2 separate regions of the Homo sapiens genome follow, and region 1 is linked to region 2. A link means that fine-mapping ties the variant in region 2 to the expression of a gene that starts in the linked region. Tissue or cell type: lung. Region 2 holds a variant in brackets; the other region holds the start of a gene. All regions are shown on one strand. Distances are between the middles of the regions.

Region 1 (8,105 bases), 75 kb before region 2:
AACAGAGGAAAACCGGTTTGAGAGTTTTTCCCGAACAGTAACTATAATGTATTGAGAAAATGGGACACCACTGGGAGTGAACAGAGGTGCTGTGAATATTCATGCTGGGATAACAGGGCTCTCTTGGCTGAACCAGGAAGTATAGTCCCCTTATTCTGTGGGAAATGCTATTTTCTATTATTATCACTTAAAATGGAAAAAGTCTAAATCTGTATTATCAAGAGCTTATTTTAAAATTTCAAAAGTTTTCAGTTGATGAAGGGTTGAGGAGAAAAGTCAATAGTAGAGTTATGGAGAAAAAATTCTGGAAAATATACATGTCAGAATTCAAACCAAATTCCGGAGCCCTGAGGTCCACATCCTTCTGCATTGTCTATGAATCATTACTGAAAAGCTGTGTTCTGTAGGGGAAGATAGCTCAACCAGCTTAGAGCTGTTGATTCTGCAGTCAACTTCTGATTCCTTCCGTGGGTCTTACACTCGAATTTTCCAGCAGAGAGATTAATTGACCAGTGACTATCAAGAGGAGGCTGACTCTTTTGAGCTGCCACCCCATGCCATTGGCATGGCTGGCATCCACTTCTGGCCTGACCAGCAGGGGCCACAATGGTAGGGTCCTTGGCAGAGCACATGGCTGCCCCATGGAAGGAGCTGCCATCACAGTGGTTAAAGGCTTAAACTCTAATTGGACAGACCTGAGCTCAAAATTTGTCTCTGCCACTATAAGGTTTGGGCTTTAGGCAAATTAGCTAACTTCTCTAAGGCTGTTTGCTTATCTGCTTAATGTGGATAATTATGTATCATGAGACTGATATAAGGATAAAACTAAACCAGGTGTGGAATACACATAACATGGCACCTGGCACATAAAAAGCCCTTAACAATCATTCCAAGAGCCTCATCCCTCCTCAGGGCCGTGGGCACGGTCAGCTTCCCGTGAGGAATAGTCTCCTCTTCTGCCACTTGTTAAGGCTGTAAGGAGAGGGTGTGGGGATTTGGTGATTTTGAATCTGATCTCTTAATGTGTATTCACATCAGAACACAAGAATATGCTGCGTTTGTTTGTATGTTTGTTTGAAAGATTATAGTTTGAAATACTCTGCTGTATCTATAAAGGAAATCCAAGTTAAACTACCTGAACAGTAGTGATTTTGTTAACCTTCCCTGTATCTGACAGTGTGCTGGGTGACAGAAGACCCCTCAGGAGCCCCCAGCTCTACCCCAGCCTCCACCACTCTCCACCACTTATTAGGTGGGTGGACCAGGACAGTCATTTAACCTCTCTGAGCTTCATCTCCTCATCTTCAAAGTATGATAATGAATACTAATTATGTCACCAAGTGGCTGCAAGTTTTAAATATAATGCTGAATGGGTTTTTGTTGTTGTTTTTTGTTTTTTTGCTGGGGGGCTAGGGACTGGCATATAGGTCCTCAATAAATATTAGGTTTGTTTTCCTTTTCTTTTCAAACTCCTTTTGGGTTTAAGTTTCTGTGGTATTATGATGTCTGTCTATCTGTCTGTCTATCTATCTATCTATCTATCTATCTATCTATCTATCTATCTATCTATCTTGGTTTTCTTCCATGGTTCCTGGCTCATAACTCCCATAGCCCTTGTTACAGTCTTTTGTTATGTTAGGTATGTTAGGCTTCAGGAAACCGAATCTCTCTGGCCTTCTGCCCTCCTTTCACCTGCTTTAAGGCAGGACTCTAATCTTCCCCCGCCTTTCTTTCTTTTTTTTTTTCTTTAAGATGGAGTTTTGCTCTTGTTGCCCAGGCTGGAGTGCAATGGCTCGATCTTGGCTCACCGCAACCTCCGCCTCCCGGGTTCAAGCGATTCTCCTGCCTCAGCCTCCCTAGAAGCTGGGATTATAGGCATGTGCCACCACGCCCGGCTAATTTTGTATTTTTAATAGAGATGGGGTTTCTCCATGTTGGTCAGGCTGGTCTCAAACTCCCGACCTCAGGTGATCCGCCCACCTCGGCCTCCCAAGGCGTGAGCTGGGATTACAGGCGTGAGCCACCGTGCCCAGCCGCTTCCCCCGCCTTTCTGATTATAGGTCTTAAGACCCTCCCAAGAGAGGGTCCTCCCCTATACCCTGGGGGAAGCAATGCTGACATCACGAAGCTTCCATAAAAGCCCAAGAGGACTGGATTCGGGGAGCTTCGGGATAGCTGAACACGTGGAGGTTACTGAAGAGTGGTGCATCCAGGGAAGGCATGGAAGCCCCACGCCCCTTCCTCCACACCTCATCCTACGTGTCTCTTTATCTGCATCCATTGCAGTATCCTTTATAATAGACCAGTAAATGTGTTTCTCTGAGTTCTATGAACCACTTTAGCAAATTAGCTGAACCCAAAGAGGGTGTCGTGGGAACTCAACTTGAAGCCAGTCATTCCAAAATTCTGGAGGCCTAGACTTACAACTGGTGTTTAAAGGTGAGGAGGCAGTCTTGGGGACTGAGCCCTCCACTTGTGGGATCTGATACTCCAGGTAGATAGTGTCGGAATTGAATTGGAGGACACCCAGGTGCGGTCCACTGCTCAGTGTGTGGGGAAAACCCCACACACATCTGGTCACCAAATTATTCTCCTGTGTTGATGATTGCTGTTGTGTAAGAGTAGAGGAAAAATACGGTTTGAGGGAGGTTTTTTTTTCCCCACACAGTTTCAAACAAGGATATTGGACCAGATGACCAACATTAAAATCTCTCTCATCCTTAATATTGCATGAAGCTGTTCAGACAGTGGTTGGAGCAATGATTTCTCTTAGACCACTACATTGATTACTTTTCTCTTTGTCATCTTCTCACTCCCCCCGTTTTCTTTCTGTTCTCCTTTCTGTTAACAAGAGTGGAAATCACTTCTATTCATGTACCTCCTCCCAACCCCACCCCCAAACTGACTACTCCATCCATCCAACTCACTGTTTTAGCTACATCTAATTTATAAAATTAGATGGCTAATGAGATGTCATAGCCTAAAATCGACTAAGAAATTGATTTTCTTTCTGTATTATTGTACCCAGACAACACCCTGCTTCCTCAGTTTAGAATGTTGGGCCACCACGGTTCCTGACTGGATACCACGAGCTAGGTCCTACAAGGGAGAGAGCTGTTTCTGGCTTAAATGATGAGAACTAGGGCAGAGAGTAAAGGATAGCCAGCCACAGCTAAGGAATGCAGTCAGTTAGAAGCCAAAGTCCCCGTGTAGTGTTCCTCTTTTCTACTGTGCCCATAGCGGACACTGATTGAATGCATTTTGTTCTATCGTATTCAGTTCCACAGTGCTTTGCAACACCCATCTTATAAATAGAAGTTGGGCTGAGGATGGGGCCAAAGTTAGGGGTGGTAGTTCATAAACACGTAGTTTTTGAGCACTAATTTTAAGTAAGACCCTGATATTAAGAAATAAGGGGGATTAAAAGATGGGAAATTAGGCCCACCAATACATGTTTTTCTATTTCCCAATATATCAAAATATTATCATTTTAACATGCAATCACTAAAAATTAATGAGCTAGTTAACATTCTTCGGACTCTTTGGTACCTAGGTGTATTTCACACTTACAGCACGTGCACGATTCAACTCGAACTAGCTACCTTTGGAGTGCTCCTTAGCCACACAAGAACAGCGTTGTTGTCAAGATGCCAGACCTTTGATTTGTGGCCCTCCGGGGTTGCAGGCGTTAACCTGGGGCCAGCATGGGTCGCGGGTGGGACAGTCGGTCCGGGGACTGGGCGGTGGGAGCACTTAAACCCCGCCCTGCGGAGTCGCCGGGAGTTGTAGTCGGAGCCCCGGGAGTCCGATGGGAGTTGCAGGCCTCAGCCCCGGGGAGCACGCCGGGAGTTGTAGTCCGCCCCCGCCACCCTCTTGGTGTGCGCGTCATGGCCGTCAGCACCGCGTTCCCGTCCTCTTCCGCTTGGCCCCAGAAAGTTTCGGTTCTGCCCGGCGGTGGACCCACGAGCGCGTAAGTGCCGCGGAAGACCGGCTGGACTCTGGGGGCACCTGGGTCGCTCACGATCCCTGAGGCGAGAGCTTCGCTCGGGGCGCGGCTTGTCACCTGTTGCCCTTACAGTCCCCGCCCATCCCAGGTCTCCCTCAGACCCTGCCCGAGCGCCCCCGTCCTTGCCCAGCGGGCCGGGAAGCACCTCGGGCAGGTGGAAGCCGGCCCAGGCACCCAGCCTGCCTCTGTTGGTCGGTTAGAAAGACAGACCCCAAACACCAGTTCCAAGACCCCGGAGGGCGGAGGGCCCGCAAAGGAAAGGAGCCCACCATGCGGCGTCTCAGAACAAGCCTGAATGTCTTAGCGCAGGATGGGGCAGGCCCCGGAGTTCCTGCCTGCGTGGTCTTTAGGAAGTTTAGTCTCTGGCCCAGTTGGGCCGGGACAGCCCAGACCTTCACTTTGCAAGACTCCGCTGGTGCTCGGATCTCTGCCCTCTTCCCAGGAGGGGAAGAAGCTTCTTTCTTCCTGGCCCATCCTTTGGCCAAGACCTATTCACTATCCACTGCCCCTTGTGCCCATGCGCAGGGTCTCGAGCTAGCCCCCAGGGGTCTTTTCCCGAAACACCTGTTGTCTCTGGTGTGGCGGCACTGCACTGGACTGGAGTCCGTGCTGTTGAAACCTGGCGGGGGTGGGGCGGGGAGGGGGGAGGATGGCGGGATTTTATTTTTTGTAAGAAAAGCACATGTGGTTGACACGTTAACCGCGTGGCCCCCTGTTAAAGCACATGTATTCTCTGATGTCCCTGTCACTCTTCACTGTTCCCATTGGGTGTCCTCTCCAGAAAAAAAAATAGAACACTTGTTGAAACTGCCTGTGTTGGCCAGAGCCTCTCAGCCCCTCTGCTTGTCTTACCACAGCAGTTTCCTTTCCCGACAGAGAAATGGGTCAGGGGCTTTTGCGGGGCAGAGGATCCAGGGCTTAATCTGCTCACTGGTTCTCCTGCCCGTGCAGGCCTTGTGGTCTCAGGCTGCAAGCTTAATTCCCCTGCCATCTGCCTAATGCGGCTGGAGGGTGTTGGGGGCTGGTGTGGGGGAGGGGTGGGGAGCTGGAGCTATCATGCCAAGGTTTTCTGCTTTCAGTAGTTCCCACCTTCTGAAGTGGACCCCTGTTGAGTGAGCTCCACTTGACCCTCCCTTCTGTGACAACCACTGTTCTGAAAGCATTGAATGCCCCATACTAGTTGTGCACCGTGGTTATTATCACCCTGAAAATAAGAGCTAATTGTCACAGTGATGGATCTCAGCCTCCTTTGATTAATAGGATCTCTCCTAAAGGCTCTTGCTTTAGGAAATAGAGTTTATCTGTTTATGTTCAAAGTGACTATCTTTGTGTAGCACTTCATTTACTTTTTAAATTGTTTTTAATATTTTATTAGAAAAATAAACATACAGAATCACTGAAAGGATTGTATGGTGAATATCCGTATACTCAATTCTTAATATTTTACTTTGATTTTTTTTTTTTTTTGCAGTTACTTTAGAGATTGGTAACAGTCTCAGGCAGTGATCCTTTAGCTGTTGTTCCGATGACCTTTGCCCCTTGGGGCTGGGTTTGGAGCACCAGTATAATTTCAGGAGCCAAGTTTTTAACCTGGTCCTTTTTGAGGGGGATGGCCCCCATAGATGTTTGTGATGAGAGGAATCACCCATAACAGAGCAAGATCAGAGCAGCTGGTAGCTTTGACCCATATTGGTCACCAAGGCTATGGACTGCTGACTCAAGAATACAAAGTAGGTACGCAAGAAATGGCAGCCCCCTCACCCCCACCCACCCTGCTTCCCTTTAGGGGAGATGTTTAGCTGATAGGTAACTTTTGTTTACTGAAGATTCCAAAGACACAGCTTTGGTGACTCAAGACTAGAATGTCTTTAAACATGAGGCAGAGGAAGTGTGTTGTCTAGCTGTGGTCTTATGGTGGAAATCACTGGTAGGCACCTAGATTTAGGAACCACGTTCACTGCAAGCAGCCCTAGGCAGCAGGTAAGGGTCATTAACTGGTGCCTGTGATTACAGAGGCAACTTGTGAGCACAGATGAGTCCATTATGGTCAGGGCAACATCTGCTCACGTCATGACTGCTATGTTCTTGTCTTAGTCAAAAGATAAACAGTATTTTGTTTGTGAGCTCAATGCCAGTTTCAAGAAAATAAGAAGTCTTTATTGGTATAAGAGCCTCTATCTGAGCAATTAAATAAATCAATAGGGTGGGAATTGGAATGTTTCTGTGGTTCTACCTATGGAAATGCTGTTTACCTTCTTGCTGTTCGTTGATACATCACAAAAATGGCTGAAATGTCTGTACTACCCCCATAATAAGAGCCATTGCCTTGGAGCAAATGGGCCCCATGGCTTTGAGAAGAGGATGATGGCAGAAGCTGTGCTCAGTTAGGCAAGAGCAGTTTTATCCCTTTTCTCACATGGGAGCCAGTCAACCTGTTGATTTTAGTAACTTCCAGTGGTCCTTCCTGTTCACTTGGATCTCTGTGGCATTTGAAAGGCACCAAGGGCCTGTTTCTCATTAGGCCGGATGCCATTTGGAGGATGTGTACATCAGTGTGGTTCTGATGAAAGACTTAAGGAGAATCTGTGGTTTGGGTATAGTATTGTGGCCCTGTGGCTGGGACCCAAGGGCTGATCTGGCCAACTACCTCAGGAATCTAGAGTACTATACCCTAGGCCAGTCCCAGGAACCCGAGTTAGGGGAAGTCCTTAGCATACAAAAGAAAAGCTTGGACCAAAAAAAGCATTCCAAGAAAACCATTAGCATGCAGGGGGCAAGGCCAAGAGAAGAATCCCTATGTGAAGTCCAGGATAGGGCTGGATAGCTGAATCAGAAACAGTGGTTTAAAATGGAGCTGGAAGGAATTTCCTGAAGTTGACTCTGCAGCCCCAGATGCTTTTTCCAGGGTATCTGTAGACTTGGTCAGGAGCAGGGAGGGGACACTTAGAAGCCTCAGCCACTGAGAATGTCTGTTACCCCCCCTTTCCCACCTCCTTCAAGGGTTGCAATTCTTAATTAATTCACATGAAGGAAGTTTACCTCTCAACATTGCATCTGAAAAAAGAAAGGTAGGAAGAGGTCAAATGACTTCCCCAGGACAGATAGAGTGCCTAAAAATAGTTGAGTAAGCTAAATATACCTTGGGTCTCACCCAACCATGGCATGATCTTTGTTGCATAATACATAATGGAAAGTTCACGTAACTAGTCTGATTCCAAAATCTAAATAGGGTCCCATTTGACAAAACTTGGCTACCACTGGTAAGAGAGAAGAAAATATCTTGCTCATTGCTCCAACTCCAGCTTCAGAGCCATCCTGGGTCCTGCTTGCCCCTCCCATCTGCAGCATGGCCCCACCTTCTGCCTCTCTGCACCTACGCTGGCACTGCTGTTGTCATGCTCCTCCCCAAGAAGTGCAACAGAACCCAGGCCCACCAGCACCTCCCCTCCCCAGGTTGCCTTGTTGATGGTGTCACATGCACACTTTCAGGAATGGAGAGACAAGGGCCTTGGGAGGTGTATTTGTGCTAGGGCTGCCATAACAAAATACCACAAACTGAGTGGCTTAAGCAGCAGAAATGTACTTTCTTACAGTTCTGGAGGCTGTAAGTCCCAGATCAAGCCATTGGCAGGTTTGGCTTCTCCTGAGGCCTCTCTCCTTGGCTCTCAGACAGCCGCCTTCTTGCTGTGGCCTCACACGGCTTTTCCTCTGTGCTCCGCATCCCTGGTATCTCTTGTGTGTGTCCAGAATTCCCCTTATAAACTCACCAGTTCCAATTGGATTTGGGCCCACTCTCATGGCCTCATTTAATCTTCATTACCTCTTTAAAGGCCCTGTCTTCAAATGCAGTCACATTCTGAGGTATGAGGGTTAGGGCTTCAACATCGAAATGCGGTGGGGTGGTGTGCACAATTCACCCCCTGACAGGAGGTTTGGGTTAGCAGGGTTGTTTGTGAGGGTGGCGGTGCTTTTCATTTTCCAGGATGGGGTGAAGGAGGCTGTGGGTAAGGCTTCCTCGGGAACCGAACTGTGGTTCACACTTCCTCCTGTCCACACCAAACCCAGCGAGACTGGAGCAGCTGGCCAAAGGAAGGTGTAG
Region 2 (8,084 bases):
GGAAGATGAAAGGGTCCTGGGGCACATGGACCAGCCAAAGCACAGCCAGGAGACAGGCCTAGGTGGAGCCAGAGATGTCGAGCCTGGAGGAGAGTGGGCCCAGCAGCTTTGTGCCTGGAAGATTGTTATCTGGAAGGAGGTCTCAGCCTGTCCTGCGAGACCCAAGGGCAGCACCAGGACCAACAGGAGACAGCTGGACAGATGGATCCCACCTAGACTAAGCTTCATATCCTGAAGGCAGAAAAGGGCTTCTCCTTTAGCCCATGGAGTGTTCTAGCATCTTCTATGTTCAAGGCTAGGGGATCACTCCTTAAGGGTGCTGACCAAGTCATGATTCTGGAAGAAACTCATAGCCACGAGTCATCAACAGCCTCAGGTTGTGGGATGGCACTGTGCCACTACTGGGGCTGGTCACAGCTCCGGCTCTGCTCATCTGTGACCTCAGGCAACACACTCAGCCTCCTACCCCAAAATAAAGGGTCTTCCCTGAGGATGCCGAGGGCCCTCTCAGCCTCTGTGATGTTTTTGCCTACCTGCTTTCCCTCCCAGGTCCTCATTCCCACGACCCGATGCAACTCCCACAAGGAGAACATCCAGGGCCAGCTCAAGGTTCGCACACCCGGCATCTACATGCTCATCTTCGACAATACCTTCTCAAGGTAGGGCCACCTCAGGCACCAGCTCCACGTCTCCAGGCCTCTCTTTCACCTCTTCTAAAGAGCAGAGGTGGACACTCAAAACCAATTATTTGTCAGTAACTTATTATTAATTGTTCTTTGATTGTTGACCCCTCTCCTGTGGTGTTCCAGTGTTCTTTAGAGATTTTGTGACACACAGGCTCATGCTTGCAGAGTCTTACCATGTCACTGCTGAGGGGTAGAGGAGTGACACTCCTAAGTCACAGAGCCAGTGGTGGAGCTGGATCTGAACCAGGCGGTCTGGCCAGTCTGAACTCTTCATAACCAAGGTGCCCTTTCCCTCTCTCTGATATTGATTCCCACTGCTCTGCCACTGCCCTGCCCAAAGAAGGGGCTTAGGAAATACAATGGAAAGACTGAATGAATGAATGAACGAGAAAGGGAGAAATAAAAGAAGGAAGGGCAGAGCTTGAGATAAGCAAGCCCAAAACTGCACCACAAAGCCCCTGGCCATGTGGCGGGAGCGACAGGTGCCATCTCTGGGAAGCACTCTGAGAACCAGCTAAGGTTCAGGAGTGTATAGGTTGGGAGATGGGGGAGAAGCTGGACAAGAGAATGAGAATGGAGGGAGATGAGGCCAGAGGGATAGCAGGAGGGGAGTGGAGACAGGACCAGCATTGACTGAGTATCTGCCAATCATTTGGAGAGGGGCTGGGCACCTGCCCCTGTTTATGTCTTCTGCTTCAGCACAGACCCCTTAACTGGAACCAGCTCTTTAGAGAGAACTGCCTGATCTGTTTCTGGCCACATCCTCTCTGAGCAAGGTCCTGGGCTACCGGTCACATCCCCAGCATGGGTACTTGGCTCTTAGCAGAATAACTAGACAGGACACTAGGGAAAACCTGAGTCATCCCCTCACCACCTCCAGGCCTTGAACTGCCAGGGCTTGTGGCCAAGAGTGCCCACCAGAGGAGGGGTTGGAAGATGAACTTCCCACCTCACCCCCTCCTGCCCCTCCGTACACTCCCAAGTGGAAATGAAAGCACCCCTGGAGTTAGCAGGACCTCATGGCATAGACCTATCATGGCCAGAGAGCTCTCTTTGGAGCCACCCTCTACCCCAAGAGTGGACATGAGCCCCAGCCCCTCTTGAACAGGATAGGGCAGTGGTTAGGAGAATGGGTTGGGGACCACCAGGCCCAAGCTCTGCTCTTCCCCCAGCGGCCCTTAGTTGAGTCTCCATTTCCTACTCTGCAGTGGCAACCACACTGTGGATTGATGGAGAGACCAAGGAGAGATGTGATGAGGGCAGAGCACCGTCCCAAGCCCGAGCAGGCTCCCAGTTATCCCTAGAGGTGGCCATGGTGCTGTGACAAACTCTGGCCTTGGCCCATCGAGGTCATCTCAGGGGCCTACTTGAGATTTCCAAACTATGGATATCAGAACTGAGTTAGCTGCCGAGTAGGAAAAAATCCGTGCTGGCCTCCACCATATGCCTCCTCCCATTGCCTGCTCCTCACACCACCATACACACACTGTGCAGTCCCCACCACCAGCTGCTTCAGAGCAGCCAGGTGAGGGAGGTGATATTCACAGCCTGTGATCAAAAGGGCATTTCTGCACCCAAGCCTCAGGAGAGTCCACAGTGATGTCCCGAAACCCTCTGACCCTCCCAGGGAGAGAACTCCACTAGACAGACAGGAAATGGGGCATGGGGCTCCAGCACCCACACCCAGCCAGGTCACTGCAGTGACCACAGAGGCCTCAGCAGCAGCTGCCACCCCTCGGACTTTCAGCTCTCAGGTAACACCCTCCCTTTCCATTTCTGTTTCCTCAGGTTTGTCTCTAAAAAGGTATTTTATCACTTGACGGTTGATCGGCCTGTGATCTACGATGGAAGTGATTTCCTGTAGCTTCAGCACCTCAGTAACTTCACTTCATCCACAGGAAACACTGCTCTTCCTCACCTGTCACATAAAGCATTTTTTTAAAAAGTCAGCTGCTCCAAAATCATCAACTCAGCCCCTGGGCTGCCCCTCAGAGGCGGTGTCTGGGGAGGACTTTGTGCTCAGCACTCTGCACCGGCCACTCTTAGCCCCCGAGGCGTTGAAGGGCTCAGGCAATGTTTCCATTAAGTAGAGACTCAGCTGTTGTCACACCCAAAGGGATGCTCTGCCAAAGGTTTAAACACCCAGGAGACCATCAGCCTCTCCTGGGAGCACAGTTGGCTACAGGCCTCTTGTGGAGAGTTTCACGGGCAGGGGTGATTCCAACTTCTGCCTGTGGAGAGATTTTCTGCCCTGCCCCACCAGGGCCCTGCATGTTGGAGACTGAGCTGGGTGCACTGGCCATGCCCTGTGAATCCTCAGGCTGTGACGCCCTCAGGTACTCCTGGGAAAAGGAGGTACACAGCCATC[A/G]TGCGAGTCGGTGCCAGGGGACCCCCCGGAGATCCTGACCAGCTCCTCCAGTCATGCTCTTGTCCCTCACTGCCCCAGTAAGCTGGAGGCTGCTCCAGAACTCAGCAGTGTTGGAGGGGCCTCTAAGCTGCACTCTCTTTCTGGCCCTTTTGTCTGGGTGATTCTGTCCTCAAATAAAGCCCTTCACTCAGCCAGACCTCTCCACAGCTCAAAGCATTGCCCTAAGAATCAGAAGTAAAGATAATCCAAGAGCAAAACCCACTGTACTTGGGGCCTGCAATGGCTGTGTGTACACTACATCTAATGCCCAAATGCCAGCCAGTGTGGATGTTGTGACCACAGAGCAGGATTGTGCATTGGCTTTAGAGCTACTCCTCAGCTGATGGCCCACTTTTGTTTATATAAATAAGAGCTTCTGCCCCACCTGCAGACATGTTTACTAATGATCATAGCCAGGATTAGAACCACTTTCAAACATTGGGGCCTTCTTAACAAAAGTCTTTGATAACTTAAGAACCAAAGTAACAGAGTAAACAGAGGCATGATGGATCCCTGGGCCCCACTCCCCTCCTGACAGGTTCCCCAACAGCCCATTTGCCCACTTCCCACTGCTCAGCCCACACCAGACCTCCAGGAGACATCCCCCCTTGAGGCAGAGAGATCCTGTTCCCTATTCCCAGACAAGAATTATTTAATCTTCCCTGTTCTCTGTGGTCCTTTTCTTCCCCAACAACAGATAGCTCACCTTGGACAGCTCTTCGTCCCTTGTTCATGGAACCAGCTGCCTGCAGTCAGGCCCCAGGTTCTTCCATGGGTGAACAGAGCATCTGACAAAAGGTCCCAGTTTGGCCAGGGGTGAGGGAGAGAGCACCAGACAGGCTATCCGAGAATCTGAGAGCTGGGCCCGGCAGTTCCTCCAGCTACCCTTGTGACCTAAGTCCAGTCACACATTTCCCAAAGTTTCTCTTTGTCATAACCCTGGTCTGGCTGGTTTTGAGGGCTTGAGAATGGGTCAGGGACTCCAGGCCAAGTCCAACAGAGACCCCAAACCCACCACACACCAGCAGCCACAACCTCACCACCAACAAAGAGGACTTTTGTGGGGCCACAAGTAAGAGGTCATTTCTGGAATGGACTCAGACCTTTAAACAGGAGAGTTGAGCACTTCCAGTCAGTTTTTAAGCAAGGCATGGGGAACAGGGAATAGAACCTTTCAAAGAGGTTGCCCAGAGAAAAGCTGGGCCTCTTGCATTCGGCTTCCTTGGAGCAGCCTCTTCTGGCAGAAAGCCATCAGGTGCTCAATCATCTTCTCCTGGCCAAGGCTCTGACCATGCTTAGTACTGGAATAGAGGTGGCCAGGCCCCCAGCGACTCTTCTTGGCCTGATGTTTGTCCTCACAGGCATGCCACGTGGCCTGAGATGATTCAGAACAAATCATGCTAACTTTGAATCCATCCAGCCACTTGCAAATGATAATCAGAAGTCAGCTTGTTCACTGTTAGAAAGAAACTAACAAAAGAGAACCCAGAGCAATCTAGAATCTTTGAGTGCTTGGCTTTCCAAGGATACTGCGGAGACTCTGGCCAAGCTGATGACCTTCTGAAGTGTCACTGGCACCATATGCAACAAGAACCACCATTCACTGAGTAGCTAATGGGTTTGGGGCCTGGGACATTCCATCTGAGGTCCTTCCTGAACATGTCACTCCACAGCAGAGGACCGGTTGCAGCTTACCCAGAACCACTCCTCCAGGAGAGCTGGATGTTTTGCGTGCAACACCTTGAGCACTGACTGCTATTGTTCAAAAAAAGCCTTTGCTGCATTCGGAGGACTGCCCCGTGCCCTGAGGTGACTTCCTAACTATGTGGTTTCATTAGCGAATTTATTTTTTGTGCTGGGTGGACATTTGTATTTTGTTAGGTTGCTGTTTAAGCTCAAGTTTGCTGTGCTCTCTGCAGCTACAAAACATCTTGGCATATTTAAGAGTGGCTTTTATAAATAGCTTTATTCTGATATTAATCAGATTCCCAACTTTACTGAGAATTAAGGACTGGGGTACTTTAAAGAAATGCAAATAGCAATTGAAGAACCACTGCTGCAGGTGGTAGCCCTGGCTAGACTGAATTACACTAGAAATCAGCCAGAAGGAAGCGTCCTTGGGATCCCAGATCACTCTTTTTTTTTTTTTTTAAAAGGGGCAGCCCCTTGATGGCTCATCTCTCTGAATAACAGTTACGTCTTCATATCGATACCAGATGCCTTCTTCATCATGCCACTGAAGCCACTCACCACCTTCAAGAACATGCCAACCTCTGTCAGATTCACTTACCCACAAACAAGGAGGCACGTTTGGCACAAAGTGTTGTCCTCCAGGTCCAAGTGGACTCTACAGAGTGCTTGACCTCAACACACTGGATTCCAGGTGGACTGGACCAAGAGCAGGCAAAGACACGGGAACTGAAAAACTCCACAGGGTTTGGAGAATAGAAATGAAAAGCCACGTCATATAACTCAAGAATAAATGGTGTTTTGGAAATTTTAAAATTATCATCGAAGGTGGTGAAACTATTTCAGGCCCAAATGAAAGGAAATCGCCAGTTGGGGATGAAATCACAGAGCCTGTGTTTTATGATATGGTTGGATGTCCACTGATGAAATTTTAAAGGAGTTTCAGTTTTAAAAGTGCGCATGATTCTACATATGAGAATTCTTTAGGCCAAGAAACTGTCCTTGGCTCAGAGGTGTTGGGAATTAAAGCAGAGAGAAGCCATTCGTGATGCTTAGAACCAAGGATGGTCATGTACACAAAGACCATCGAGACGGCCATTCTTGTTTACAAAACACTTACCAAGAAAGCACTTTGTAGGGGAACTTTAGTAAGTTCTTCTCATTTCATTATGTTTCTTCCAAGGAAACAGGAGAGACTGAATTAATAATTCTCTCTTTCCTCTTAAGCACTTTTAAAATAATAAAGTACATCTTGAAATTTGGGGAGGCATCTCTGATTTAAAAAAAGAAAAAGGCTGCTTGATGTATGTTATGCAGAGACACTCTGCCTCTGGTGGCTGCAGAGCAATACCCAAGCCTCATTTGGAAGGCTCAACATTTGGAATTGCACTTTAATTGATTAATCCTCAATTCATGTGGCCTTACGGGATGGTGGGTCTGGGACCCCAATTCATTCTTATCTGCCAAAGAATTATCTAGAAGCACATCAAATACCAGCACCCCACCTGCTCAATGGGGGTGGAAAACTTTTGTATCCCTAAGCATATTATTTTATAGTGTCTGCCATGCCATGTGGAAATACTTTATTTTTAACCTCAGGATTTAAATAAAGTAAACACTATGACATTTAGACATTTGTCTCTCATTTTTTTGGGACATAAAGTGCACCACGAAGTTATACAGAGCTGAGTTGGGGTTGAGCTGTGCTGCTGGGAAATAGAGCATCTTTTATGGTGGCTTTTCAGGAGGACTTGAGCCAGCAGATGTTCTGGGAAGTTTCCAGGTGGCCTGGCACCTGGCTGCTTCCTGGCCTGCTGTGAGGGTGGTGTTTAGACCTGCCTGAGACAGCCTGTCTTTCAATCCATGCTGTTGTGCCCTATGGGCTTCTAGCCTCAGCTCAAATGTCCAGATCTCCCAGGGCACCCACAGAGCATGTTGAGCAAAGAGCAGACTTCTGAGTTTACCGGAACAATGGGGCTGGGGAGAAGCATCATGGATGGCCTAAAACCATGATTGGTCAATATGAGGTACAAAGCTGGGCAAGACTGCCAGGCTGAGATGGCTGGCAGAGGAAGAAGTCAGCCCTCCCATTCCCGCATACCTTTCTCTGGCTGGGTCAGCAAAGAGCCTGGACAGAGGCCCAGAGGGGCATGCCCTGGTCACTGCTGGATGTTGGACTGAGCTCAGGCTGGGCAGCCCACCCACACTCACCTCACACCCCCACTCCAGGGATGACCAGGGCTCTGTCCCTGCAGTGCTCTGCACCTCAAAAGAACACCTCCCCACACCACCCCTTCACCGCCCTTCCTCCGCCAGCCCTCTCCTGCTGCCAGACTTTCGTTTGGCCTCTTCTTTAATCTGTTACTCCATGGAAGAAGTCACATTTTCTGTAACTCTGGTTCTCTCCCAAGGATAAAAGACAGTGAATCCTTCATCTTTATCTTCATCTCCCTCCTCCCTTCTCTCCCCACCGCAGCATCGAGCAACATGCCAGGCAGGAAGGGACTCAAAAAATACTGAATTGACCTCTCGGGTCAGTCCCAGTGCCCTGGGTCGCCAAAAAGTCATCAGCATTCCCACTGGCGACTAACTCTGCCAGGAATAGAGGCTCCTGAAACACTCCGGTGGCAGAGGAGGGAAAGGGTGGGCCTGCAGGAGGAGATACAGGCAATGATAGCTGGTCACTCAGTCCCACCCCCTGCACCCCCTCTTATGTCAAAGATGCCCTTGGGCTGGGCGCAGTGGCTCACGCCTGTAATCCCAACACTTTGGGAGTCCAAGGCAGGAGGATTGCTTGAGCCCAGGGGTTCAAGACCACCTGGGCAACACAGTGAGACCCCGTCTCTACATTTTTTTTTCTTTAATTAGCCAGGTGTGGTAGTGCATGTCTATAGTCCCAACTCAGTAGAGGCTGCAGTGAGCCAAGATCATGCCACTCCACGAGTGACAGAGTGAGGCCCTGTCTCAAAAAAATAAAAAGGTACCCTCAGATCAAGTATCTATCTAGTAACCAGATTGCAGTAATGGCAGATAGTTACTCCACCTGCCCCAAATGACAGAGCCAGAGAGTTTCTTTGTTAATACAACAGTCCTTCCTGAGGCTTGGGGGCCTCATGGGCTGGGGGCTAGAACAAGAAACAGTTGAGACATACATATATGTGTGTGCTGTGCATCTGGGGCTGGGATCTGGGGACCTCCAGGTCAAAATCCTCCATTCCACCTCACCCCACCCTGCTAAACTGCAGAATAACTCAAGATGACCCAAGTCTTTGCTGGAGGGTTTCCAAGCCCCACGCTTGATT

The links. PIP is the estimated chance that this variant, and not a neighbour inherited with it, causes the effect.
Region 1: FYCO1 starts here. The variant in region 2 is fine-mapped to the expression of FYCO1 in lung (TOPMed, PIP above 0.99). The same link has a PIP of 0.9 or more in sun-exposed skin, thyroid, tibial nerve and whole blood.

Annotation. Positions count from the first base shown.
Region 1 is chr3:45,991,587-45,999,691 of GRCh38, reverse strand. FYCO1 (FYVE and coiled-coil domain autophagy adaptor 1) reads left to right here and starts at 3,868. Exons shown (of 18, transcript NM_024513.4): 1 at 3,868-3,970. LOC105377063 (a long non-coding RNA gene) reads right to left here and starts at 3,789. Exons shown (of 3, transcript XR_940799.3): 1 at 3,603-3,789. RefSeq lists enhancers at 3,840-3,999, 4,020-4,069, 3,570-4,069, 6,115-6,615.
Region 2 is chr3:45,916,231-45,924,314 of GRCh38, reverse strand. It overlaps FYCO1 (FYVE and coiled-coil domain autophagy adaptor 1), which reads left to right. Exons shown (of 18, transcript NM_024513.4): 17 at 550-659; 18 at 2,475-6,412. The coding sequence ends at 2,550. Among named protein-coding and RNA genes, the nearest start is that of CXCR6, 23 kb to the left of the region's middle. RefSeq lists an enhancer at 7,847-8,084. The variant A/G (reference allele first, on the strand shown) is at 3,055.